4 linked regions of the Homo sapiens genome follow. The protein of the gene in region 1 interacts with the protein of each later gene in a biochemical or structural test. Each region holds a gene or a part of one and is shown in the gene's direction. Other genes may lie near its edges. The genes, in order: PDZK1, SLC15A5, CYSLTR2 and SLC34A1.

Region 1 (7,027 bases):
CTAGAGAAGGTTTGCTTTTGGTCTGAGGTGGTCACTGGTTTCTGAGGTGCCAAGCCTGGTTGGAGGCACAGATAGTCAGCATTCATAAAGCTGCGTAGAACCATGGGGTCCCAATGGGGACATGAAACTAAATGATCCAGAAAAGCCCGTGGACTTTCCACCAGTTGTATTGAATACATACCTGATGGTGTGAGAATACAGAAAGGGGCTGTGGTGCCTGCTCTTAAGAAAGCTTATCTTGGCTGGGCATGATGGCTCACGCCTGTAATCCCAGCACTTTGGGAGGCTGAGGAGGGTGGATCACTTGAGGTCAGGAGTTTGAGACCAGCCTGGCCAACATAGTGAAACCCCATCTCTACTAAAAATACAAAAAGTAGCCGGGTGTGGTGGCGGGTGCCTTCAATCCCAGCTTCTCAGGAGGCTGAGGCAGAAGAATTGCTTGAATCCAAGTGGCAGAGGTTGCAGTGAGCCGAGATCGCACCACTGCACTCTAGCCTGGACCACAAGAGCAAGATTCCATCCCTCCTGGCCAAAAAAAAAAAGCTTATCTTGTTGGGGACACACGACATGGATCCTGAAGCTCCTCTATAGTCTACTGGACTGAGTCCAGTGCTCACAGTCTAACCTACTTCTTTTTTTCAACATATAACTGTGCTCTGATCTTTCTGAACCATTCACCATTCTGGGAATGCATCTCCTGCTGTTCCTTCTGCCTGGGATGACTTCCTCTTCCTAGTCTGACTACTTGTATTTCCAGAATACATTCTACACCTCAGGCCTGGGAGGCAGGGTAGATGGTGGAAGGAATCCAGACTCAACTGGGTTTGAATCCAGACTCTGCTTATCCAAATAGTCAGGGGAAACCAAGTTAACTTTTCAGAGTCTCTTTTCTTTTTCCTTGTAAAATGGCCCATCAGGATTGAATCAGAACCCATAAAAAGTACCTAGGCTGGTTCCTAATCCTAGTAGGGAGCTCAATAAATATATATAACAATAAGAAAGCTTTTGTATTTAAATATTCCAGCACCCACAACGTTGTTCAGCAGTTAAACTTCATAACTCTCCCCACTGGACTCCAGGCTCTTTCAGGGCAGGACGGTAGCTATTCTGGGTTGAGCCCTGATACCTGCCTCGCAGTAGGTATTACATAGAACTTGTTAAGTACATGAGCGATAACTGAAATTCAGAAGATGAAATGATACCTTCAGACTGTGGTGGTCATGGAAGGATTCGTATATAATCTAAAATTTGAACTGAGCCTTGAAAATGGTAGGTCTTAAATTCGTTCACTTGGAACAAATGTTTACTTAGCACGTACTATGAGTAAGTGCTCATGGGGCATGAGCAAAGGGCAGGCTCGTGTGGGTGACCATGCATAGACCAATTGGGGCTTGCTGAGGAGCTGGGGGCCTGAGGTAGGGCTGGATTATGCTGAGCCTCAGTGCCTGAGCAAGAAGCTTGAACTTCTTTTTTTTTGAGACGGAGTCTTGCTCTGTTGCCCAGGCTGGGGTGCAGTGGCACGATCTTGGCTCACTGCAAGCTCCGCCTCTTGGGTTCACACCATTCCCCTACCTCAGCCTCCCGAGTAGCTTGGACTACAGGCGTCCGCCACCACACCCAGCTAATTTTTTGTATTTTTAGTAGAGATGGGGTTTCACTGTGTTAGCCAGGATGGTCTCGATCTCCTGACCTCGTGATCCGCCTGCCTTGGCCTCCCAAAGTGCTGGGATTACAGGCGTGAGCCACTGCACCCGGCCGAGCTTCTTTTTCTTGAATTATTATTATTATTATTTTTGAGATGGTAGTATAATAAAACCAGGGTTAGAAAGTTTGTCTCGAGGCAAGACTCTTGTAGTAGTTTAAACATACCAAAAAAAAAGTGGGGGGGTAGAAATGCAAGTTCAAAAAGTCACAAAATGTCGATTTGGGGAAAGCACTTGTCTCAGCTGGCACTCAAGGCGGTTGAGCTGTCTATCAGCAGCATGAGGGTGTCCTCTCTCTGTGGGTGCCTCTGTTTCCACACAATATTGGCTCTATCCCTCTCCCAACTCATAGAACTCTTAGATAAGCAATCAAACTGTGAAAGGCCTTGAACTCCAGCCCAGAGTCTTGCCATATAGGACAAAGTATTGTTTATGGTGGCTGGAGGTAGGGAAGGTACTTAGTATCAGCAGGCCAAATGAACTTTGGGATAAGTAGATTCCATTCTTGATCATAAATGAGAAATAAAAACTACTCAGTGGGTCTGGGATCACTCTTCTCCAGATAATTCTCAATGGAATGGATTTCATTGATTTCTCATATTTGAAATTTATCCCTGGCTAAGACCAAACAGTAACTATCACAATGGGAAAGTACACTAGGCAAATACATATTTTAGAATCTTGCTTCTCCTTCTATTTTTGATATTAATTATTTAAAGTAAATATACTTGAGTATTTGAATTTCCATATGCTTTGCTTTTCAGAGGAGAAATCCAGGCAGCCTTAAATATGATCTGCATAAAAATATAGGATCTGTTCTAGGTAAAATATATTTGAAGAAGGGTGAAATTGAGTTGTCTTTATCTCTTCCTTGCTAGAGACATCTGTCAGTAGCAGCTCAGATACAGCAGGATTTTTTTGCTTATGCTGTTGGAAGGAACAGCATGTGCCAAGGCTCTGTGGCAGGCTCTGAAGGAGGCCAGCCATGGCTGGTGTGAGGCATGAAGCCTTGGAGTCAGGGCTGATGCCTGTAGGGAATTCTCAGCCTGTCTATAGTTGCTGGCTTAATGTTGCACAGTCTCCACCAACTGTATTTTCCTAACAAAAGTCTAGTGGGTTTGTTTTCTTCTTTCTTGTTACACAGATGCACACAAGTGCTGCAAGAACAGCATTCCTCAAAGTGCACACTGTGGTCAAGCGTCCTGAGAATGTGGCTTTTTTCTTGCTAAAGTTCAGAGTGTTTTATAGGCAAGCATGGAGTTCAGTGGAAAGCAAGTAATGTCTAGGTTTAATGTTGCCGGAGAGACCCTGCCCTTTCTTTTCCTTATGCCTCAACAAAACAGAAGTAACTTACTCTATGGTTTCATACTAGATTATACAATCAGATACCCTTCCACAGTCAGAGTAACTAGGGTTAAACATTCCTCACCAGCAGTCCTGCTAAGTGTTTGTTTTTTTTTTGAGATGGAGTCTCGCTCTGTTGCCCAGGTTGGAGTGCAGTGGTACTATCTTGGCTCACTGCAACCTCCACCTCCTGGGTTCAAGCAATTCTCCTGTCTCAGCCTCCCGAGTAGCTGGGACTACAGGCGTGTGCCACCACACCCAGCTGATTTTTGTATTTTTAGTAGAGACGGGGTTTCACCATATTGGTCAGGCTGGTCTCAAACTGCTGACCTCAGGTGATCCTCCTGTCTCAGCCTCCCAAACTGCTGGGATTACAGGCATGAGCCCCCGCGCCCAGCCCCTGCTAAGTTTTTAGTGTTTAGTGTTTTCATGGATTGAGTGTTGGTTATGTAAGTGCCTTGTGGGGAGAGGCTCTGTTGTCTTCGTGGTGTGATACTGACGGCATAATTGATTCCTAGTTACTATTAGATAAGGTGATGGTGGGTTCAGGTGTAGATGACTATATTTATGGAATAATCCTGCCACTTCTAAGTCCCAGACCTTGGAAGATGAGCAGAGATGACAGTACCTGGGCTGTTTCTTTCCTGATGGTATTTCATTGCATCTGGCCATCGCTGGTGACAGCCCCCTTCTGTCTTTCTCCCTCCAAGCAGAATGCTGTTTATCCCATGCCCTCTCTCTGATCTTTTGGCATTTCAGTGATGCTGTCTGGTGAGTGAGCCTATTCACTAGCTACTCCTTGGCTATGAAGGTCCCTCTCTGGGCCAGGTATCTATAGCTAAGGTAATGCTTCACTCACTCCATCTTCTCCACTGCTGTCTGTTCCTTGGGTCCCTATGTTCACTTCTGTTAGAGCTTATCCACTCCAGGCGGTGGAACTCTCTGGCCAGCTTAGTCTTGAAATTCTGTTAAAGCTCCCTGGACTCTTTTACCTCCTTGATACACAGCATTTGGTTCTATTTTGTAATTCCCTGGCTTTTAGACTTACAGGATACTTTTGAGTCCAGAGTTTATTATTTGAGCTTTCTTTCATGGGGAACAAAATCTCCAGCCCTGACTTTTCAGCAGCTAAAATTAGCTTCGCAGAAGTGATCTGGACTGAGTAGATAGAGAATCCCTTGCCTGATCATTGAGGTGCCTGCCCATTCTTAGTCTGTAATTTCTTCCTGTCTTCTGCAAAAAGAAAATCAGGAAAAATTTCAAATATTCTCACAGAAAATGGGATTCCCATTGCATCAGGCGTTTCATCAGAGGACAGGAAAGAGTAACTTGGATGGAGTGGACTTCTATGCTCCAGAAACTGTGCTGAGAGGCCTTGCATGCTCTACTGTGAGCCATCTTCACGGCATCCACATGTGCTTCCTATTCTAGGGGTATTCTATCTTCAGCTCAAAATTAAGGAACTCACCCATGTTCTTACAGTTAACAAGCGGTGAAGCCAGGATTAAAAACTAGGTTTGGCTCTAAAACCCTTGCTCTTTCTACTCTACCTTACTCAGAATCGATCCTGGGGGAAGATGGAAACAAAAATACAGATTCCCTTTTGTATACACATCTGGCTCCTTTAGAATTGCATCATGGGGAACTATTCTGCTCTAAAGATCTTTTCAGATAACTTTTCCTGTGTCAACCCACTAACTTTTGAAACTGCTTCCACAGTCCCTTCTTCTTTCTTCCCAACTCATGCTGCTAAGCTAGTCCCTGAAACATTTCATCTTCCCAATCCCAAACTCCTAGCTCCTCTTATCTGCCAATTCATGTTGGCCCCACAGTCTGACATTCCAGCTCTGTGCCCCTTGTAAATCTAGAAATCCTCACATCCTACTCTTATGGGCTTGTTAGTTTGAGATGGAGTCTTGCTGTGTCACTGAGGCTGGAGTGAGTGGTACAATCTTGGCTCACTGCAACCTCCACCTCCCGGGTTCAAGCGATTCCTGTGCCTCAGCCTCCTGAGTAGCTGGGATTACAGGCACGCACAACCACGCCCAGCTAATTTTTAAATTTATTTTATTTTTTTTTAAATTTGAGATGGAGTTTCACTCGTTGCCCAGGCTGGAGTGTAATGGCGTGATCTCAGCTCACTGCAACCTTTGCCTCCTGGGTTCAAGTGATTCTCCTGCCTCAGACTCCTGAGTAGCTGGGATTACAGATGCCCACCACCAAGCCTGGCTAATTTTTGTATTTTTAGTAGAGACAGGGTTTCGCCAAGTTGGCCACGCTGGTCTCAAACTCCTGACCTCAGGTGATCCGCCTGCCTCGGCCTCCAAAAGTGCTGGGATTACAGGCATGAACCACTGTACCTGGCCTTTATTTTTTATTTTTTGAGGCAGACTCTCGTTCTGTCGCCCAGGCTGGAGTGCAGTGGTGCAATCTTGGCTTACTGCAGCCTCCGCCTCCCGCCTCCCGGGTTCAAGCAATTCTCCTGTCTCAGCCTCCGGAGTATATGGGGTTATAGGTGCCTGCCACCACACCTGGCTAATGTTTTTTGTGTTTTTAGGAGAGATGAGGTTTCACCATGTTGGCCAAGCTGGTCTCGAACTCCTGACCTCAAGTAATTCACCCGTCTCGGCCTCCCAAAGTGCTGGGATTATAGGTGTGAGCCACTGCGCCTGGCCTACCCTTATGTTTTAAAAATATGTTAGCCCCAACTTAGGGTAAAAGTTACCACTTTCCTTTTCTATTCTTGATGTATATTACTGTAAGAAAAATCCATGGGAACCCATGCTGCTGCAAGTTTATTATATATATATATTTTAACCTAAGTTGTTTCTTAGACATTTTAATTCAATTCATTGACTCTTTGTAGTGAGCTAATGCTGTGGCCATTAGTTCACTGTCTTAGTTCACCGCCAGCTCGGGGGCTCCATTCTCTTTTGGTTTACATAGAATTTCTTTTAAGTTTGAAATAGCTGTCAGTTTTTTTAAATGGGGACATTTTATGTAAATCTAGATTTCCAGAGTCTCTTGAAAATTGAAAGGTGGCATGCTGGCCTCCTCTTCCTCAGGCAGTTGTCTTCTCATGAAAAGCAGCAGCTTTTCCTCCGTCCCCTCTCGGCCACCTTCGCTGATTTACCTGTTTGACCCTAGAGATTATTTTTCTGTGGTACTTTTGCTCCATATTCTCCAAGTTCCTGATTTTTGTCAGCTACTTCGTAGGAGAGATTGAGGCTGAGGTAAGTGACCTTGTTTTCTTCTTTATCATATTTTTTTCTACTTCTCTTCTGCCCCTGGAGAAGAGGTATTTCCTCTCACCAAGGCTAACCCCAGTTTCCATGTTCTCCATATCATCTCTTGATACAGAAACATGCTGATCGTTTCCTTAATGTTAAAAATAAAAACATCCAGGCTGGGTGCAGTGGCTCATGCCTGTAATCCCAGCACTTTGGGAGGCTGAGGCGGGCGGACCACAAGGTCAGGAGTTTGAGACCAGCCTGACCAACATGGTGAAATCCTGTCTCTACTAAAAAAAAAAAAAAAAAAAAAAAAAAAAAAAAAAAATTAGCTGGGCATGGTGGCGGGTGCCTGAAATCCCAACTACTCAGGAGGCTGAGCAGGAGACTTGCTTGAATCTGGGAGGCAGAGGTTGCAGTGAGCTGAGATCGCACCACTGCACTCCAGCCTGGGTGACAGAGCGAGACTGTCTCAAAAAATAAAATATCAATATTCGTTGCTTCTGTTACTTGGTATCCACTTGCTTCTTAGTGTTTTATCAGGCCCAGACTTCCATTTTCTGAATGTCAGTGGCATTTTCTGTTTTCATTCTCTCTACCTCTTAGCATTATTTGGCATTGTTAACTATCCCATCTTAAAATTCTTCTTTTAGTTTTGATGACACTAAAATTTTGGCATTTTGTTTTCTGATTATTCCTTTTTGCTTCCTCTTTCTTTTCTCTCTTTCTCTTTCTCTCTTTCCCTTCCTT
Region 2 (7,027 bases), on another chromosome or scaffold:
TCTGTTGGCTGCATAAATGTCTTCTTTTGAGAAGTGTCTGTTCATATCCTTCACTCACTTTTTGATGGGGTTGTTTTTTTCTTGTAAATTTGTTTGAATTCTTTGTAGATTCTGGATATTAGCCCTTTGTCAGATGAGTAGATTGCAAAAATTTTCTCCCATTCTGTAGGTTGCCTGTTCACTCTGATGATAGTTTCTTTTGCTGTGCAGAAGCTCTTGAGTTTAATTAGATCCCATTTGCCAATTTTGGCTTTTGTTGCCATTGCTTTTGGTGTTTTAGACATGAAGTCCTTGCCCATGCCTATGTCCTGAATGGTATTGCCTATAGGAACACTTTTCCACTGTTGGTGGGACTGTAAACTAGTTCAACCATTGTGGAAGACAGTGTGGCCATTCCTCAGGGATCTAGAACTAGAAATACCATTTGACCCAACCATCCCATTACTGGGTATATACCCAAAGGAATATAAATCATGCTGCTATAAATACACATGCACATGTATGTTTATTGCGGCACTACTCACAATAGCAAAGACTTGGAACCAAACCAAATGTCCAACAATGATAGACTGGATTAAGAAAATGTGGCACATATACACCATGGAATACTATGCAGCCATAAAAAATCATGGGTTCATGTCCTTTGTAGGAACGTGGATGAAGCTGGAAACCATCATTCTCAGCAAACTATCATAAGGACAAAAAACCAAACACCGCATGTTCTCACTCATAGGTGGGAATTGAACAATGAGAATACTTGGACACAGGAAGGGGAACATCACACACCAGGGCCTGTTGTGGGGTGGGGGGAGGGGGGAGGAATAGCATTAGGAGATATACCTATTGTAAATGACGAGTTAATGGGTGCAGAACACCAACATGGCACATGTATACATATGTAACAAACCTGCACATTGTACACATGTACCCTAGAACTTAAAGTATAATAAAAAAATTAAAAAAAAATAAAAACAAACAAACAAAAAAGAAACATCTAATGTCAATGGGTAAGAAATGTTATGGCTTATTACATGAATCTCTAGCTCTTCGTTTAACTTTTTTTTCTTTTGCATTATTTTCCTTCAGTTGCTGGAAATCTTTTTGCTGCATTGTCTGTGATGATAGCTGGCTTCTTTGAAATACACCGAAAACATTTCCCTGCAGTGGAGCAGCCCCTTTCAGGAAAAGTTCTCACTGTTTCCTCCATGCCCTGTTTCTACCTGATTCTTCAGTATGTTTTACTTGGAGTGGCGGAAACACTGGTAAACCCAGCCCGTGAGTAAACACCTTTTCAACTAATGTTAGAACATACTGAACCTTTACACAGAACACATCACCTCAACCAGAACAATTAAAGTGGTATGTCATCTATTCACCTCCTAGAGAGTTCCCACAATACTTCCAGCAAATTTATTTATTACTTTTTTACAAACATTTCATTTCTCCTCATTCCTCTGCCATGCACAGAACAATTATCAATTCTGCCTGGATGCAGATGGAACAAAAGATTTTTAATCTGGTTAAAGGCAATAACCATTTTGTCAGACACACCACAGGAGGAAAACCTCTGCTAAAACCCAGAAGACAACTCCAGAACACTAAGATGTAAAGCCTCTTCTCTTCTCCCTTCCCTCCTCTCACCTCCCCGACTCTCACTCATAGATAAACTCACAGGCCGGGTGCGGTGGCTCACGCCTGTAATCCCAGCACTTTGGGAGGCCAAGGCAGGTGGATCACGAGGTCAAGAGATCAAGACCATCCTGGCCAACATGGTGAAACCCTGTCTCTACTAAAAATACAAAAAATTAGCCAGGTGTGGTGGCAGGCGCCTGTAGTCCCAGCTACTCAAGGAGGCTGAGGCAGGAGAATCACTTGAACCCGGGAGGCGGAGGTTGCAGTGAGCCGAGATTGTGCCGCTGCACTCCAGCCTGGTGACAGAGTGAGACTCCATCTCAAAAAAAAAAAAAGCTCATTTATACTCCTCCAAAAATGACACTTAATGTTCTTTGAGAGTATATAAACATGCAAATGAAATGAAAATTTAAGCCAATTTTCCAGATAACTTGATGTCTTTGAATTAAATTACACTAGATTAAATGAGATCACTAATGTTTCATAAGACAGGTTCAAAATAAGTTTATTAAATATCAAGGGTTTCTGAATTATCTAGATTGCTTATATTAATTAAACTAGCCACTTTACAATTTATCACAATATTTCAGTGGCTTCTTGCAATACAGTAATGTGTGTGTACATCTATTTATCTCTGTAATTGATTACATCTTATGTTTCTATCCTCCTTAAATTTTCGTGTAGTAGGAGTCCTGATTGTAACTCAAGCTCCCATTATATTTTATGGATAATATTTTTATAACTTCTAACTATCTTCCGACCTCCATTATCTCTCCCATTCTATCAACTGGCACATGGATTTTAGAGTAATCATCCTAAATAACAATTCTAACCATTCCATCTGTGTCTACAATCTTCAATGATTCTATTATCTTAAAAGTTGTTTCCAAACTCCTTAAAATAAATATTTAATAAATATGTATTTATACACACACATACTTATGATACCAAGGCAATTCATTAAATAATGAAAATAAAATTAAGTTGGAGTATATGCATATATATGTGTGTCTCAGACTTCTTTTTTTATAATTGTATATCATTTCATCCCATATATTTTGCATACATAAATTACTTTATGAGATTTTAAACTGGGGACCTCACTGTTTAACACTGCAAGGAAGACAAAAGAAGTGTAAAGCAATGCTACTACACAAATATTTGTGATCTTCTCTGATGTTATTCCCAAAAATGTGTTGGAAGTAGTCAGCCAAAATTTTCTGGGCTGGTATAGAGTAAATAATGAGTAAAAGTAATGAGTGAATATGTGGAGGAAATTGCTAGCCAGCTTAGCAATAGTGGTTCAACATTCAGAAGCCAGAGAGGTACAGAAAACCAATGACTGTGAAAAAGGCAGATCATGTGCTACACATCACTTACTCCACCACTCCCTGATTTACTCCAGGAAATCAGGCCTAACTGAGGTCTAAGTCACTTGACTCATCTGCTATTGGGATAATGGACCAGGGACTGAAAGAATTTGGTCTGATATCTAGCTTTTCCATTACTACCTACATAAATTTGGGAACTCATTTAACCTCCAATCCTCACTTTTCTGATATTTAAAATAGAAATAATTGTATTCTTCTTTATATCACAGCATTGATAGGGTAAGCATCAATGGGAATGAGAGACTACTCCTTGAAAATCAAATGACATAACATATGAAAGGGTATTTCAAACTATAAAATCAAGTATTACCTTTCTGGGAGACAGTACAGCACAGAGGTTAGGCTCTATGGTCTTAAAGTCAGACAGATCTGAATTCAAACCCAGTTCTGTCACTGACTAACTCTGTGACGTTGGGAAAATTATTCCTCATTTCTGGGCTTTTCTCATCATCTATAAAACAGGGAGTTGTTCAAAGGACTAAGTGGAAGATTTTATGTAAAGCAAAAACCGCAGTGCCCCGTATATAGACAGCATTCAATAATTAGCAGTTATAATGTGTTGTTATCATTACTAAAAGTAATGGCAAAAACCACAATTACTTTTTCACCAACCTAATATTATTATCATGTTTCACATGAATTAATAGTGTCAGACTCAGAACAGAAGCACAGGTGTCCTGTTCCCAGCTCTTTCTGCCATAAACCACCTGAACAGCTGGGAGACCTGGAAGCATAAGCAGAACTGTCTCTCACTTGATTCATCCTAGATCCATCTCTTTCCTCTCACCTCTCCCCTCCAATCCAACAGCAAGTCCTCATTTTTACTCTGAAATATAACTTAAATCTGGCCACATCTCACTATCCCCTTTGTTCTCCTGGTGTACAACACCATCATCTCCAGCCCCAATTCGACCAGAGCCTCTGAACTTTTCTCCCTGCTTCCTCTCCTGCCCCATGAGTCCATTCTCTTCAAAACAGTTGTGGTGTTCTTCTCAAAACATAAGTTCTATCATTCCCCTGATTGAAATTCCACAGTAGAGTTTTAGAGATAAATTATTCACAATGGTGAATAATGTTCCACATGATTTGGTCTCCACGTGTTGTTCCACCTACATTTGGTTACAATCTGCCCCTTGACCACATCCCCAGAAATGTGTGTGTTTCTAAGATGCTAGATTTCTGTCTACCCCAAGTCCTTTGTACTTGCTTTATCCTTTATTCAGAATTCCCTTTCCTCTGTTTTCAAATGACTGGCTTCTCATTATTGAGCTTTCTCAAAGGTCTTCTCTTTGGAGGGGCTTCCTTGAGCATTCCATCACTTTCCACTTAATTACCCTGGTTTTTTAAATAGCACTTGTCAGAATCTGAAATTACTTTATTTATATTTGTATTGCCTGCCTCTCACTGTAAGAATATACATTCCTGACATCAAGGTATGTTTCTCCTTTCCGAAAAGTACATATACAAAATAGGTGATCAATAAATACATTTTGATTGAAGAAACAAATGAATGAAGTCTACGGCTATTTCTATATGGTACAATAAAAATGTATTATTCAAACTTTTGACAGTGTCCTACATTGATGGCATTGAGCAAGGAAACACAGTGAATCACTCCATAAATGACAGTAGACATAGCCTACCCTACTAAGACATGTTATACATTGGAGATGAGCTAGAAAAAAAAAAGCAGTAGGAAACTTTTCAAATTATGTTTTAATTGTAGCAGCGTACACCTCAGCTGTCTCATACCCTATGTTTGTTTATTCAAAAAATACTGTGTGGGTGTCTACAGTGTGCCTAATACTGCTCTCGAAGTTTTAGACACATCAGTTAAAAAAAATAAGACAAAAATTTCTGCCATTATAGCTTATAGCATCTCTGTGGTTGAGTAGTGGAGAGTAAGTTGGGAAGATAGAAGGCTCTAATCAGAGAAGGGTGCACAAAATTGTGATTATGGAGTGGGTACAGTTATTGATCCAACACATGGTTTTGCAGGCCAGTCTCTGTTACAATTACTCAACTATGTCATTGTGGTATGAATGCAGCCATAGACAACATATAATAAATGAGCGTGGCTGTGTTCCAATAAAACTTTATTAAAATAGGTGGCAAACTGAATATTACCTGACCATAGCTGGCCAACCACTGGTCTGAGGTACAAGGCATAGGCCATGACCTTGGGTGTGAGTGGAGTGGAAGCTGAGGTAGATTGGAGATCAGACATTGGAGGTCAAGGAACTGGACAACCAAGATTGAAAGGATGGAAGGTGGGAAGGATGATCTACATGTATAGTAAAATTGCCAAGTATTAAGGCAGAAGTAGTACCAGAGAGTGTGACAATGAGAGAGGAACTGACAACTCTGAGAAAAAGAGGAAAATGTCCTATAGATTGGCAGATGACAGCATGAAAGGGAAGTAGATGATATAGTCTGATAACATGAGCTTCAAAGCTGAAGCTTTTTTAGGGTTAAGGGAGATATAATGGTCTAAAAATGGCAACAGGATAAAGTTCCATTTTCTGGGACTGTGGTACTTCTTCTCCACATGTTCAAAATAACTTTTCACCAAACACAATACACACATTTTAACTGTTTAAGAACAACGAGAGTAAAAAATATTTCCAGCAATAAGTCCCCAGTACCAGGTGCCTTAGGAAGGTGGTTATGGCCCTATATTTTGAAGATTCCTCATATGCTGTGATGTGGCATCTTTACAAGCACTAACCAGCTACTACCTGGAGGCACATTTTTAGCGCTCATTGGCAAGAAGACCAGCTTTCACGTACACACTGAATATTTTTTATTGTGTCTTCATAGAAAAACGGGAACTTTACAATAGTGACAGACTTATTGATATTATCTACATTGTAATGGGCTAAAAGAAATATCTCGGAGCCTAAAAAAAATCAAATTGATGATCACTAAAGTTTCAAAAGATCAGAACATGCAAGTAGATGCCTAAAAATGAAGATTCGAGGACTTGAAAAGCTAAGTCCTATAAAAGGGAACTGGAGGTTTTCAAAAACGACTAAAATGACACCAAAGAGAGATTAACCAGCAGGCAGAGAGCTGGCAAAGTGTGTTCATGAATTATATACCGTACCAGAAGTTCTAGCAGGAGAAAAGCATAGGATTAATAATTAACTAGCAGAGTAATAATGGGCTTGTATGTTCTGCTTTTTCTTAGTGAAAGAAATAGGCCTACTTACTCTTTCTGCTCATTGCTTGTCTCCTTGTACTTATGGAAAGGAAAGTTTATAAGCCAAATCCTTTTTATAACTGTGAATCATTTATTCCCAAAGCCTATTCAGGCTTCCTCTCATATTCCCATTTGGACCTTTCTGAAAATACTCCAAGGTTCCTGCTGGTGATTGGTACTACACAAAGAGCTGTGCTACCGTGCCACCAATATTTGAAGCCCTTCTCCACAGTATTTTACCTATCACCATTATTATCTTCATCTCCAATCAGCGTTTGTGGGAAAAGTGCACATTTAGCACTGCCCTTTGTACTAAATAATGTGCTGTTTCTGCTCCAGAGTTTAAAGTCCAGGAAAGATAAACTGATGCCTTTTCCCACCTCTCAGTTCCAGCACTGAGCACTTTCCTGAAGTGCAAAATGGGATTCCTTTAAATCTTTATGGGATAAATAAATCAAGACATGTGCAGGACACACCGAAAGTAAAACAGAAATTTTAAATTAAGGAAGGAGCATTAATACATTTACATCATGTGTTAGTAAGATCATGGAAAAGTTCTGGTAAATGCAGAGTTTTGCTGCAGCAAAGTATTAAAAACAAACAAACAAGCAAACAAAAAACCAGGGGTAAATATTCCCGAGAGGAGCAGGAAGAGATAATAAGATCTCTTACTTCTCATAGAGAAGGAAACTAAATGTTTAGTGTTTACAGTACAGTCATGCAACACGTAACAACATTTTGATCAATGATGGATCACGTATATGACGGCAGTTTCATAAGATTATAGTATCATATTTTACTA
Region 3 (7,027 bases), on another chromosome or scaffold:
TAGAGAGCTTTTTGAAATCCATGTCAGAAACCCCTAGCACTGTATTTCTTTATTTCTCAGGGTATTGGCCACTGCCTCCTTTGTACTGCAGTTACTTATGTACAGTATGTTCTATTGGACCAAGACTCTGACATTGGAGTCATTGCATAGAACCTAGCACATAAACTCCATTGAGAATAAAGGCATTGTGTAAATAAATCAATTCACCCAATGAATGCAGACTTTATTAGTTACAGCTAATGTTTATCTCTGTTGAACTTTATTAACCTCTTTATATTAATTGACCCATGGAGAAAATATAATCTTGACAGAATTTAAAGGAAAACCTCTTCCAATGGATTGATGACTTTGTGGCAGTACAGTCAGTCTTTTGACAAAGAAATCTAGTTATTATTCGAGAGGCCCAGGATAAGGGTCTAAGCAGTGAGTTGGAGTCAAGAAATTCCAAAGTCGGAAGGGTCCTTAGGAAGAGCTGGGACCAGAGGCAGAGTTTTTTTTGCCTCTTTAGTGTAAAGTCCTTAACGGAGAGGTTTCAAAAAAGTACAGGAAGCAGACTATAGAAAGAACAGAAGAAAGGAGAGAAAGGAGGGAAGTAGAGGAGAGGGGAGAGGAGGGAAAGAGATGGAAAAGGAGAGAGGAAAAGAGGGGAAGGGAGCTGGTTTACTCTGGAAGTTTAAATATTAATTAAGCTGGGAGAAATTAAAATAATTTAGTCCACCATTATTACCTACATTGTACATTATATAAATAAGAATTTATTATAAAAAAGATAATTTCCCACGTAAGTCTCCTGCCATGAGGCTGTAGAAACAGCATCGTACCTTGTTTGTACCTCTAGTACAGAAAAACAATCATCTAAAGAGTATTTGAAGGCATCCTAGATTCTTTTTTCTCTTTTGTCAAATTATTATTTTTAAAGTATTTTAAATTTGTATAAATTTATGGATTACACATGCAATTTTATTAGACGTATAGATTGCATAAATTGTGTAGTGGTCAAGTCAAGGCTTTTAGGGTAACCATCACCTGAATAACATTGTATCCCAGATTCTTTTAAGTAAGCTGGTTTCTCTTTATTTTGAGTCTTACCTTAAAAATAAGGTAAATTCGCTGAGAGATATGTAAATCTCTTGTAAATTCACTGTTCCTTTGTAAATTCACTGAGAGATATGAAGGTGACTCCCTTTTAGTTGTAAGAGGCACAAATCCCTATTGGGAACTTGTTGGCACAGAGTCAGAGAAACAGTCTGCTACCCTCCAAGATATAAAGGGTGCTGCTTCCTACAGTGTTTAGAACAGAGCACCATCTGGGTACCCTCTGTGGCTGCCTTCTGCTCCCATGCCATGCCATTGACCATTTACCCTATATTCCTCTTCCCAGACTTTAGATTTGAATTTCAGGAAAAGAAAATTTTCAAGGAAAAACACATTAACATCATTTCATTATAAAAACCATGTGAGTTCTTTCCCGCCCCCCAAAAAGATATTAATTGTAAGGCATAAAATGAGGGTGTTGGATAACAGCTTCATTAGCTCATTTATTGATCTGAGCACATTCATGTGCTTCACGCTGTGCTAGGGCCTGGGGTACAGCAGTAGACACGTGCTTGCCTTCCATGGGCAAACAGTCTGGTGGGTAGGGATAGACAGGAGACAACTGCTGCCCCTGGAGTAAATGCTGGATGGGAAACCCAAGGGTCTGCAAACAGCCAAGACATGGAGGGATCAGAGAAGACTTTTTCTGAAGAAAGTGATGTTTAGAAAGAAACCTGAGACTGGGTAAGCAATAGCCAGGAAATGAGCTGGAGCTCAGAAGAAATGGGCAAGAGAGAGCCTGCAGTGTTGGGGGTTTTGAAATAAGCTTCATGAGACTGAGTGTCCTTTACTGAGGGGATGGTGGGGAGAGAATATGCTGGACAACAAGATCAATACTATGAAAAGCCTGGAGATGAACTTGACTCTGAGATGATAATGGGTTTTAAGTGGAAGAGTAATGTGGTCAGATATGCATTTTGGAAAGGTCACTCTGGCCACTGTGTGAAAAATGAATTGAGAACAGCCAGAGTGGAGATAGGGAGCCATTGAGGAGGCTGTGCCCATTGTGCAGGTGAAAGATGACAGCCTGTACTAGGCCGGTCTTGAGCTGACCACTGAGATGAAAGGAGGAAGTTGATGGAGGCTGCTGGGTAAACAGGCCAGGTCTGCCACAGAGGAGACACTGGGCAGCAGGACAAGCAGGAGAGGAGGAGAGCCCATGGTTTACTTTTGCTCCTGGCCCTCTCTCCTTTAGATTTCAGATACCCACTGCCCCCATGCCACTGGCAGCAGGTGGGGTGGCAACAGGAATGACAATGCATGGTGCCAGGCAAAGTGTAGCTGCATCCCTGGCTGTCACCTGTGCTGCCTCCTGGGGTCCTCTCAATAACTCTGAGATGTTGAGTACTTTCTGATGGTCACACAGTTTGCACAAGGAAGAGCTAGGATTTGGGTTCAGTTGGGATTTATTCCAGAGGTTTTCCATGATATCGCAATGTCTCTATGTCATTTTAGGAAATACACATGATGTTTAACAAACTACCTTTGTAAATAATTTCTTTTCTCTAAGAATTGAATTTAATAATGGAATATGAAATGCTGTCTAGGGGAAATGAGAATGAGAGGGAGTTTTAATTTGAATAAATGGGCTTGTGAGGAGCTCCTGAGTCATGTCATTTAGTTACCTTGATTATGGACAGGGAGGACCCTAATGTTGATCAATCCGTAGGGATTTATTGGAATAAACAGGACAATGTTTCTATGATAACACTTGCTGTTCTTCTGTCTTGGAAATCAGAGACTCAGATAAAAAACAATTCTGTGATTCTGTGGTCTTCCTTAGATCAGACATTTGGTGAATAATAGATACCGCCAACCTTTCTAAATACAAGGATGAAGTGCATTAGAAAATGAAAAACATATTGTTGAGATTTTTACGAAAATTAAATTCATAATCAGCATCATAGACTCATGTGTTATATTAACCAAGGAGAGCTGAGGAAAGTTTTGAGAGCCAGAGAGAGGGCAACATTTAGTCAAAATAATGTTTTTAAACAAAATGAAGCCATATCTCTAAGCAGCTCAGGGCTCTTCATATATGATGTTTTTGTTGAGTTGAATTTTTGTTTGTTTATTTGGTGGCTGAATGTTAGTGGTAGGATGAATGTGCAAGAGAAGCTAGCTTTTGGAGTCTATTAAAGAAGGAAACAAGGAGAATTAGTAAAGACAGAGGTGGGAAGAAGGAGGTCTGAGGTAATGCTGTACATCTTGTTCTTGAGGGCAGAGGTGTCCCCTGGCATGTTTGGATGCCAAACTTCTGCTAGGTTTCAATCCCTGCTACATCCCTGGGGATAAGTTGTTCTCTGGGAGATAACAGTAGATCTGCCAGAAAACTCTTCACCAATGGCCCAAAGTGCTGACTTCATGGTTAAGTGGCATGTGGAAATAAATGGCATTCAGAAAGCAAAGGGTCACCAGCCTGGTGGCCAATGAAGTGACTCATACTTTGGGGGCTCCTTGAGGCACTTTGTGGGTGACCGGGTAGAGGAAAAATCAGTGCAGCAAAATTCTCCAAGGCACTGAGTCCATGAAAACAAGGCCCTGTGAGATTCATTCCCCTCCATCCCACTTCCTCTGGAAGCTCAGAGACCAGCTCCGTTTCACATTCAAAATATGTCACAATTTCAGTTCCTTTTATCTGTGTTTCTGTTTTGATCTCCAAGAACTTAATTCACCTTGACTTTTTGAAAAAAAAATTCTGAAAGCACAAGACCGTTCTTGGAAGGCCAGGAAGGTCTAGAAAGCTTGGCATTTCTGACATGACATTTGGAGCCTGTTACAAATAAACTCTGAGTTGTCAGCTTGGGTCTCAAGAGTAAACTCTCAGTGATACTTCCCTGTTCTGGAGGGCCGTGTTAATTCAGCACTCTGAGGCCTCTGGGATTTTGAGGAACAAATGTGTTGCAGAATCCTCTCTGCACAACTTCAGAGAGCTTATTCTGTCAGCCTTTGCAATAACAACAGCTAACACTTAATATGGCACTTTCTCTGGTCCAGGCCCTGACCTAAGTGCCATTCATGTATTATCTCACTTCATCCTTACAACCCTATGAAGTAAGAACTATTATTAGCATTACCCCTTTCTTTTATTTATTTATTTAAATTAATCTTTTTTTTTAATTTTTCTTTTTTATTGAGACAGTGTCTTGCTCTATTGCCCAGGCTGCTCTTGAATTCCTGGGCTCAAGCGATCTTCCTGCCTCAGCCTCCCAAAGTGCTAGGATTACAGACATGAGCCACTTTGCCTGGCCGCATTACCCCCTTTTACTGATAAGGAGCTGACGCCGAGGGAGATAAAGTCATTTTCCCATGGTCATAGAGGTAGTCCGTGAACAAATCAGGATTTAAATCCTGAGGTTGCTGCTCTGTTACTGCTTCCCTGCAGCTGAGAGCAACACCTGTCATGCTTCTCACCATTTTTTATCATTAAATCATTTCTCAGCCTTGTTTTTATATATTTACTAGTGCCCTGCAAAAATTTTGCCTCCTTAATGCTTGTTCTAGGTCCCAATTCTGAGGTTTAATAATAATAGTTAACATCACTGAGCGCTCACCCTGTATGAGACAACTCACATTTATTATGCCATTTATAGATGGCATAACTGAGGCTCAGAGAAGATAGGTCACTTCTGCAAAATCTCACAGCCAGTAAGTGGCAGATGTGGCCTGCTACCTTACACCAACTGTCTCCTGTGAACACTTCTATTTATTTTAATTTATTTGTCAAATTGACAAATAATAATTGCATATTCATGGGGTATATATTGATGTTTCTATACATGTAATGTATATTGATCAGATCAGGGTAATTAGCATATCCATCATCTCAAATATTTATCATTTCCTTTTGTTGGGATCGTTCAATATCCTCCTTTGAACTAGTTGAAACTATTTAATACATTATTGTTAATTAGAGCCATCTTACAGTGGTATAGAACATTAGAACTTATTCCTCTCATCTAGTGGTAATTTTGTATCCTTTACCAAATCTCTCCCTTTCCCCCACTCTTCCAGGCCTCTGGTTTCCTCTGTTCTACTTTTTACTTCTATGAGATCAACTTTTTTTACTATTCCACATATGAGTGAGAACATATGGTGTTTGACTTTCTGTTTCTGGTTTAGGAAATACAATGGACTTAACATAATGTCCTCCATTTCCACCCTTGTTGCCACAGATGACAAGATTTCATTCCATTTTATGGCTGAATAGTATTCCATTATGTATATATACCACATTTTCTTTATCCATTCATCTGTTGTTGAACACTTAGGTTGATTCCATAACTTGGCTATTGTGAATAGTGCTGCAGTAAACATGTCAGTGCAGACATCTCTTAGGCAAACTGGTTTCAAAGCTTTTGGGCAAGTACCCACAAGTGAGACTGATGGATCATATGGTAATTCTACTTTTAGTTTCTTGAGGAACCTCCATATAGTTCTCCATGGTGGCTATACTACTTTACAGTCCCACCAACAACACATGAGTTCCCTTTACTCCACATCCTTGCCAACATTTGTTTTTTCATCTTTTTGATAATAGCCATCCTAACTGGGGTGAGATGATACCTCATCGTGGTTTTGAGTTGCAAAATCATCACTGATGATTAGTGATGTTGAACATTTTTTCATATACCTGTTGACCATTTGAATGTCTTCTTTGTGAAATGTCTGTTTAAATCATTTACCCATTTTAAAATTGAATATTTTGCTGTTGAGATGTTTGAGTACCTTGTATATTCTGAATATTAGTCACCTGTCAGATTAGTAGCTTGCAAATATTTTCTCAAATTCTGTAGGTTATCTTTTCACTCTGTTGATTGCTTCCTTTGCTGTGCAGAAACTTTCTAGTTTGATAATCCCATTTGTTTATTTTTGCTTTTGTTGCCTGTGCTTTTGAGGTTTTATTCACAAAATCATTTCCCAGACCAGTGTTCTGAAATGTGTGTCCCATGTTTCCTTCTAGTAGTTTTTATCATTTTGGGTCTTATATTTAAGTCTTTGATCCATTTTGAGTTAAATTTTGTAGAGTGAGAGGTTTGGGCCTAGTTTCATTCTTCTATAGACATCCAGTTTGCCCAGAACCATTTATTCAGGAGACTGTCTTTTCCCCAATGAGTATTCTTGGCACCTTTGTCAAAAATCAGTTTGCTGTAGATATTTGGATTAATTTCTGGATTCTCTATTCTGTTCCATTGGCCTATGTGTCTGCTTTTGTTAGTAACATGCTATTTTGGTTACTATAACTCTGTAGTGTATTTTGAGGTTTGGTGGTGTGATACTTCCAGCTTTGTTCTTTTTGCTCAGGTTTGCTTTAGCTATTTGGGTTCTTTTGTGGCTCCATACAAAGTTTAGAACTTTTTTCTATTTATGTGAAGAATGTCATGGGTATTTTGATAGGAATTGCATTGAATCTGTAGGTTGCTTTGAATAGTGTTGTCATTTTGACAATATTAGTTCTCCTCCATGAGCATGGGTTGTCTTTCCATTTGTTTGTATCCTCTTCCATTTATTTCATCAGTGTCTTGTAGTTTTCCTTGTAGAGGTCTTTCACCTCCTTGGTTACATTTCTTCCTAAGGTTGTTTTTTGTTTGTTTGTAGCTGTTGTAATGGGATTGCCCTCTTGATATTTTTTTTCCAGCTAGTTCATTGTTTGTGTAGAAAACACTACTGATGTTTGTATATTAATTTTGTTTCCTGCAACTTTATTGAATGATTTATTAGTTCTAAGAGTTTTTGGTAGAGTCTTTCTATATATGAGATTATCATCTGTAAACAGGAACAATTTGACTTCTTTCTCTTGAATATGAATGCCATTTATTTATTTCTCTTGCCTAATGACTCTGACTAGGATTTCCAGTGCTATATTGAATAAGAGTGGTGAGAGTAAGCATCATTGTCTGTCCCTGTTCTTGGAAGAAAAACTTCCAACTTT
Region 4 (7,053 bases), on another chromosome or scaffold:
CCAGGCTGGAGTGCAGTGGCATCATCTTGGCTCACTGCAACCTTCACCTCCTGAGTTCAAGCAATTCTCTTGCCTCAGTCTCCCAAGTAGCTGGGATTACAGGTGCGCGGCACCACGCCTGGCTAATGTTTGTATTTTTAGTAGAGACGGGGTTTCACCATGTTGGCCAGGCTGGTCTCGAACTCCTGACCTCAGGTGATCTGCCTGCCTTAGCCTCCCAAAGTGCTGGGATTACAGGCGTGAGCCACCGCACCCAGCCTCTTTTATTTATTTATTTATTTATTTATTTATTTATTTATGTTTTTGACACAGGGTCTCGCTCCGTCACCCAGGCTGGAGGGCAATGGTGCAATCACAGCTCACTGTAGCCTTGCCTTCCCAGATTTCAGCAATCCTCCCACCTCAGCCTCCCCAGCTACAGATGCGTGCCACCACACCTGGCTAATTATTTATTAATTTTTTTAGAGGCAGTGTCTTGCTATGTTGCCCAGGCTGGTCTTGGACTCCTGGGCTCAAGTGACCCTCCCACCTCAGCCTCCAAGTGCTGGGATTACAGGCCTGAGATTTGGAGGGGATGCGCCCCGACGTGTGCAGTGCACACTCATGACTGTGTGCATGGCAGTTGTGCTGGTGTGAATGCCGGCATAAGATGCTCAAGGGTTCTTCTTCCCTTGACCATCTTCAACTTTAGGTCCTGCGGAAAACCCACATGCAGCAAACTGTGCATTTAAGGAGCACATGGCTCTGAAGAATTGCAGAAACGGCTGGTTGTGCCAGCCTCCACAGCTTGCTCAGTTCCTGGATGTGCACATTTGTTCTTGGGATCGTTCTCTCTCTCTCCGTTCAGCAGTGATGCCTCTCCCGGAGAAATGGTTTTCACTGGTGTGATGAAATTTAATATATGTCAGCGTCTCATATTCACGCTGGCGATGCTGTCTCTGCTCCCCCGCCTCCCGCTCCTTCCCACACCATCACAAGCTGACTCCTCCCCCAACATGCCCTCCCAGGTGGCTGACAGCCCTTGGTTGTTAAAGCCTCTCTGTTCTCAGATTACTTGACATCTTAGCAGCACTTGACCCAGCCAACCAGGGTGTCTCTCTCAAAATGTGGTCCAGCCTGGCTTCTGAGGTGGCTTCCTCCTGGTCCGTGGCTGCTCCTCTCAGTCTCCCTTAAATGTGGGTGCTGGCCAGGTGCCGTGGCTCACGCCTGTAATCCCAGCACGTTAGGAGGCTGAGGCGGGTGGATCACAAGGTCAGGAGATCGAGACCATCCTGGCCAACATCGTGAAACCCTGTCTCTACTAAAAATACAAAAATTAGCTGGGCGTGGTGGCGGGTGCCTGTAGTCCCAGCTACTCAGAAGGCTGAACCAGGAGAATCGCTTGAACCTGGGAGACAGAGGTTTCAGTAAGCTGAGATCGCGCCACTGCACTCCAGCCTGGGCGACAGAGCGAGACTCTGTCTCAAAAAAAAAAAAAGTGGGTGCTCCTCTGGGCTTGGCCCTGGCCCCTTCTCTCCTCCTGTACATGTCCTCCCTGGGGTACAGTTTCTCAGGCACGGGTTAAGGCTGGCAAAGCAGGTAGGAAGCCAAGTCACCCTGGTCCTTCCAGGCTACTATAGGATCCTGGGCTTTATGCTAAGTGGTTAGCAGGGGCAGGTTTCGAAAGGAAGAGGAGGTGACATGATTAACTTGGCCTTTTTTTTTTTTTCTTTTTGAGACAGAGTTTTGCTCTTGTTGCCCAGGCTGGAGTGCAATGTGCGATCTCGGCTCACTGCAACCTCTGCCTCCTGAGTTCAAGTGATTCTCCTGCCTCAGCCTCCCGAGTAACTGGGATTACGGGTGCCCGCCACCACGCCCCGCTAATTTTTTTGTATTTTTAGTAGACATGGGGTTTCACCATGTTGGCCAGGCTGGTCTCGAACTCCTGACCTCAGGTGATCCACCTGCCTTGGCCTCCCAAAGTGCTGGGATTACAGGCGTGAGCCACCGCGCCCGGCCTAGTTTGGCATTTTGAAAAGATTGCTGTCTGCTGCTTTGGAGCATGGATCAGGGGCAGCAAGGGCAGAAATGGACAGAGCACTTGGGAAGTGACCGCAATGACCCAGGGGAGATGACAGGCCCAGTCCAGGGAGGTGGCCACAGAGATGGCTAACAGCAAAAGATCAGGGAGCTCCTGGAGCAATAAAATTGGGAGAATTGAGGACTGAGTTGGAAACGAGGAAGTGGAGGGGAAGGAAACAGCAAGGATGTCTGCTTGGTGCCCGACCCAGATGGATGGACGGTGTGCCGCTCACCAAGATCAGGAAGAAGGAGGAGGCCCAGGTTTGGGGTGAGAAGCACAGTGCGTGCTTCTGGCTTGCAGAGCCAACTGCTCGTGCCAGAGGCCGCTCAGAAAGCCTGAGCAGACGGAGCTTGGCACCTTCCCTCCAAAACAGCTCCTCCTGCTGGGTTCCTTTCTCAACGCGAGACACCCCCAACCAGGCAGGCTCTCAGCCCAGAAAAGGTCTGGGGAGGCCATGGCCAGAGCCCAGGTGCACAGACAAGGTGGGACTCACCACCCAGGGGGACACACAGACTCTGTCACTGGCCAGGGAGGAGGCAGGCAGTAGGCAGGGAGGTGCTGAAATGGCAGAGAGGCTGGCAAGAGATACGTTGGTGCTGGAATGGAGCTGCCTTCTCTGCTGCTTGTATGAGTCCCAACAGCAGCTCTGGTCAGATCCAGCATTTTCTCACTTTCACTAGGGCTGTAGCCCCAAAATAAATCTTTAGAAGTGGTGGCTGTGTAAATCAGCAGCATTTTGGAATTATATCTCTTGATGGATTTGATCGATAGCTAACTGCCTCCCCCACTAAACCCAGAGCTCCGTGACAGCAGGGAAGGCAAACTTCAAAAATATCAAAAAGCACAACCTTATTAAAAAGGAGAAACACCCCCAGTTCACCAGGAGCACCTTGGATTCAGCTGCTCCTGCCAAGGGTCTGAACTGCACGGGGGAATGGAGAGAAACAGGTCACGTGGGCCGGGGTCTCTGGGCCCGCTGTGGGGGTGTCAGTTTGCTCATAGGTGGAGACACTCGATGTGACATTAACAGCACCTTCAAGCCCAAGGACCCAGAGATTCTGACACAAGAACTGAGAACTGATTGCATTTCCGTGACTCAGCGACACCCTCCTACCTGGGCATGAACCCAGCCCTAGCCAAAGATCCAGAGACCCGACTCCCATCTATTTCCTTTTCCTCTCTCCCTCCCCGTCACCAATTCTACTGGTCAGATGTCCCTGGGATGCACCTGTCCTCCCCAGCCCCTCCGTTCCCATCGGAGTTCAGGCCTCATCATCTCCTGCCTGGACCATTAGCCTCTTAACTGGCCCCTCCGCTTCCAGGCTCCCTTCCATATATCCGGGTTCCACCCCGGGGGCCATTCTAAAAGGCAGATCAGGCCCATCCCAGTCTGGCCAGCGGCTCCACATTCACTCAGACTCACATCCTGGACCCATGGTCGGGCATTAGAGACCTGCCACGATTCAACATTCCACGGCCTTTCCAGCTTAGGTCCTCATCTCACACTCCCTCTCCTCTGAGCTCCCCCTGGGAGACTTACAGACACCCCGACGCTTGGCAAGGCCATAGGATGTTTTTGTTTGGTTTGGTTTGGTTTTTCTGAGACAGTCTCACTCTGTCACCCAGGCTGGAGTGCAGTGGCACGATCTTGGCTCACTGCAACCTCCGAAGGCCATAGGATGTTTGGGTCATTCCCTGGGGAGTCCTGTCAGGCCAGGAACGAGGGGACCCTGGGAACAAGGTGCTGAGTGGCATCAGGGTCTCTGCCTGCAGGCGGGGGATGTGTCTGGGTCGTGGTTGATGGGAAGAACCTGACCATAGATTCCCCATGCAGAGCTGACGATTAGCAATTAACTGGGAGGAATCTCAGGGGTGAGGTTAATTGGGGGACAGAGGGAGGGCAGCTAGGGTTCCAGGGACTTTGCCCTTGACCCAAGAGTATAAAGAGGAGGGTCTCAGTTCTCCTCAGGGTCCTGGAGGCTTCATTGAGCTGCTGAGCAGAAGCTGAAACACAGAATTCTAAGGTGAGCCCAGGACCCTCACATCCCAACCCCACCCCCAGCTCTGAGTAGGAAACAGCCCAGCACCCCAGCCCCTTCATCTGTGTCCTATCTGCGCCCACCCCCACCGCGCCCCATATAACATGTCAGTCCAGCCAATCGCGGTGGCTCCCACCTGTAATCCCAGCACTTTGGGAAGCCGAGTGGGCGGATCACCTGAGGTCGAGTTTGCACTAAAAATACAAAAAATTAGCCAGGTGTGGTGGCAGGCACCTGTAATCCCAGCTACTTGGGAGGCTGAGGCAGGAGAATCGCTTGAACCCACGAGGCAGAGGTTGCAGTGAGCCAAGATTGTGCCACTGCACTCCAGCCTGGGCGGTAAGAGTGAAACTCCATCTCAAAAAAAAAAAAAAAAAGGACTCCTGCTCCTTCAGGACTTGAATTCAACTCTTCACACCCCTACAACAGCCAAGGACGCTGGGACAATGCGGGGAGTGCTGAGGCAGATCAGGGCACTCCACCCCAATAGCCAAGACTCCTGGGGCAGTGCGGGGACAAGGGGGGGCTGAGGCAAGCCTGTCAGTGTTTGTTCATTGCCCCTTGAGGGGGTGGATGGGGAAAGGAATTCATTGTGAGGGGAACCCAGGAACTCGGGATCCGGCCCAGGGGATCTCCGTGTGTGCCCAGCTGACCCCATGAGAAGGCAGGTGTCTGCAGCTCCTCCTTGCTCTCCAGGTGGGCAAAACTGAAGCCCGGCCCAGCCCCAGCCCACACCTGCAGCCACTGCCAACACCACGTATTCCCTGGCCCCCTCCAGCCCCAAACAGGCTGGGCGTCCTCAGTTCTCAGTGTCTTTTATCAATGCTATATCCAAGCCTCTGGTTCGGAGCCTGGGCTAGAGCTCAATAATACTCATTGAATGAGTGAATGGTGAATGAATGATCACCTCACCACCACCACACACACCCCTCCGAGACTCACATGCAGGTGCCCAGCACAGATGTGCACATGTGAGTCTGCATGTGAGTCTCGGAGGGCTGTGGTGGTGATGATGGAGGGTGTGGTTTGCTGGGTGTGTGTTTGTGCGTGTGAGTCTCGGAGGGGTGTGTGTGTGTGGTGAGGATGGAGGGTGTGCTTTGCTAGGTGTGTATTTGGAATCATGCGCCATGGGGGTTTGTGCAGGTGAGGGTGTGTGGGCATGAGTGTCCCGGACACAGCTATTGTCATTCAGCGTTGCTGAGACCCACTGACCTGCAGACCTCATAGTGGGTGCCCAGGATGTTGTCCTACGGAGAGAGGCTGGGGTCCCCTGCTGTCTCCCCACTCCCAGTCCGTGGGGGGCATGTGATGCGAGGGACGGCCTTTGCCTACGTGCCCAGCCCTCAGGGTAAGTGCTGCTCCCACACCCTGGACCCTGGTTGCCCACGGTTGCCCACATCCCGGATGAGGCCACTTCCCCCGCCTGTTCCTCCCCGCCTCCCCACTTTGGGGCCCTGGGGCTCCTGACCAGGCTCCCTCCCTAGTCCTACACAGGATCCCGGGGACCTCTGCCTATGCCTTCCCCAGCCTGGGCCCTGTGGCCCTTGCTGAGCACACCTGCCCCTGTGGGGAGGTCCTGGAGCGCCATGAACCACTGCCTGCCAAGCTGGCCCTGGAGGAGGAGCAGAAGCCAGGTGGGCCTGGGCTGGGGGTGGCAGAGGCGGCAGCAGTCCCTGCCCTGGCCTCTGCCCACTATGCTCATGGCTTCCCCCATCCAGAGTCCAGGCTGGTCCCCAAGCTGCGCCAGGCTGGCGCCATGCTGCTCAAGGTGCCACTGATGCTCACCTTCCTCTACCTCTTCGTCTGCTCCCTGGACATGCTCAGCTCGGCCTTCCAGCTGGCTGGAGGTAGGGCCCGGGTGGAGGAGACCTGGGAGGGGTTCCTGAAGGGCCTTGGACAACGCTGGCTCATGCTCCCCAGGGAAGGTGGCTGGTGACATCTTCAAGGATAACGCCATCCTGTCCAACCCGGTGGCCGGGCTGGTGGTGGGGATCCTGGTGACCGTGCTGGTGCAGAGCTCCAGCACCTCCACATCCATCATCGTCAGCATGGTCTCCTCTGGCTGTGAGTTGGCCCACCAGGGTGGGGAAGAGCTTGGAGGGGCACCCCAGGAGCTGGGAAGGGTGGCAAATGGGGAGCGTGACCCCAGTAAGGCTGGCCTCCATTCAGCTTGACTCCTGTATCAGCCAGGGACATGAGAGGAGCCCAACTGTAGCTGTATGTGACCCAGATGATTTATGGCAAGGAACTGGCTTCCCCGATGGTAGTTTGTCTGGGCAAGTCAGGAATCCGTAGGCCAGGGCATTGGAAGGGCAGGCGGGAACTCTCAGGTGGGCGCCGACACTGCAGTCCAGACAGGGCAGCGTTTCTCCTTTCTCAGGGAAGCCTCAGTTCTGCTTGAGGCCTTTCATTCTATTGGATTAGGCTGACCCAGGTTACCAAGGATAATCTCCTTTTCTTAAAGTCAGCTGACTGTAGACGTGAATTGCATCTACAAAACACCTTACAGAACACCCAGGCTAGTGTTGGGTTGAATAACTGGGTACCACAGCCTAGCTAAGTTGACACATAAAACTAACCATCACTGGCCGGGCGCAGTGGCTCATGCCTGTAATCCCAGCACTTTGGGAGGCTGAGGGGGGCAGATCACGAGGTCAGTAGATCGAGACCACCCTGGCTAACACGGTGAAACCCTGTCTCTACTAAAAATACAAAAAAAAAAAACAACAAAAACCAAAAAGCATTAGCCAGGCGTGGTGGCAGGTGTCTGCAGTCCCAGCTACTCAGGAGGCTGAGGCAGGAGAATGGCATGAACCCAGGAGGCAGAGCTTGCAGTGAGCCGAGATCATGCCACTGCACTCCAGCCTGGGCGACAGAGCGAGACTCTGTCTCAAAACAAACAAACAAAAAAACTAACCATCACACTCTGGGGCATGTGTGCACACACAAGCA

What was found.
Region 2: the proteins of PDZK1 (region 1) and SLC15A5 interact in a test that uses a peptide from one of them, tested with the Homo sapiens proteins (2 studies listed by IntAct, with this or other methods).
Region 3: the proteins of PDZK1 (region 1) and CYSLTR2 interact in a test that uses a peptide from one of them, tested with the Homo sapiens proteins (2 studies listed by IntAct, with this or other methods).
Region 4: the proteins of PDZK1 (region 1) and SLC34A1 form a complex in vitro, tested with the Homo sapiens proteins (2 studies listed by BioGRID and IntAct, with this or other methods).

What each region holds. Positions count from the first base shown.
Region 1 is NC_000001.11:145,697,342-145,704,368, reverse strand, and holds part of PDZK1 (Na(+)/H(+) exchange regulatory cofactor NHE-RF3), read left to right. Parts: intron 1-7,027. UniProt on the Homo sapiens protein: A scaffold protein that connects plasma membrane proteins and regulatory components, regulating their surface expression in epithelial cells apical domains.
Region 2 is NC_000012.12:16,218,662-16,225,688, reverse strand, and holds part of SLC15A5 (solute carrier family 15 member 5), read left to right. Parts: intron 1-1,086; coding exon 1,087-1,275; intron 1,276-7,027. UniProt on the Homo sapiens protein: Proton oligopeptide cotransporter.
Region 3 is NC_000013.11:48,656,906-48,663,932, forward strand, and holds part of CYSLTR2 (cysteinyl leukotriene receptor 2), read left to right. Parts: intron 1-7,027. UniProt on the Homo sapiens protein: Receptor for cysteinyl leukotrienes. The response is mediated via a G-protein that activates a phosphatidylinositol-calcium second messenger system.
Region 4 is NC_000005.10:177,380,402-177,387,454, forward strand, and holds the start of SLC34A1 (sodium-dependent phosphate transport protein 2A), read left to right. Parts: upstream 1-4,032; 5' UTR 4,033-4,086; intron 4,087-5,293; 5' UTR 5,294-5,340; coding exon 5,341-5,449; intron 5,450-5,585; coding exon 5,586-5,735; intron 5,736-5,819; coding exon 5,820-5,948; intron 5,949-6,021; coding exon 6,022-6,165; intron 6,166-7,053.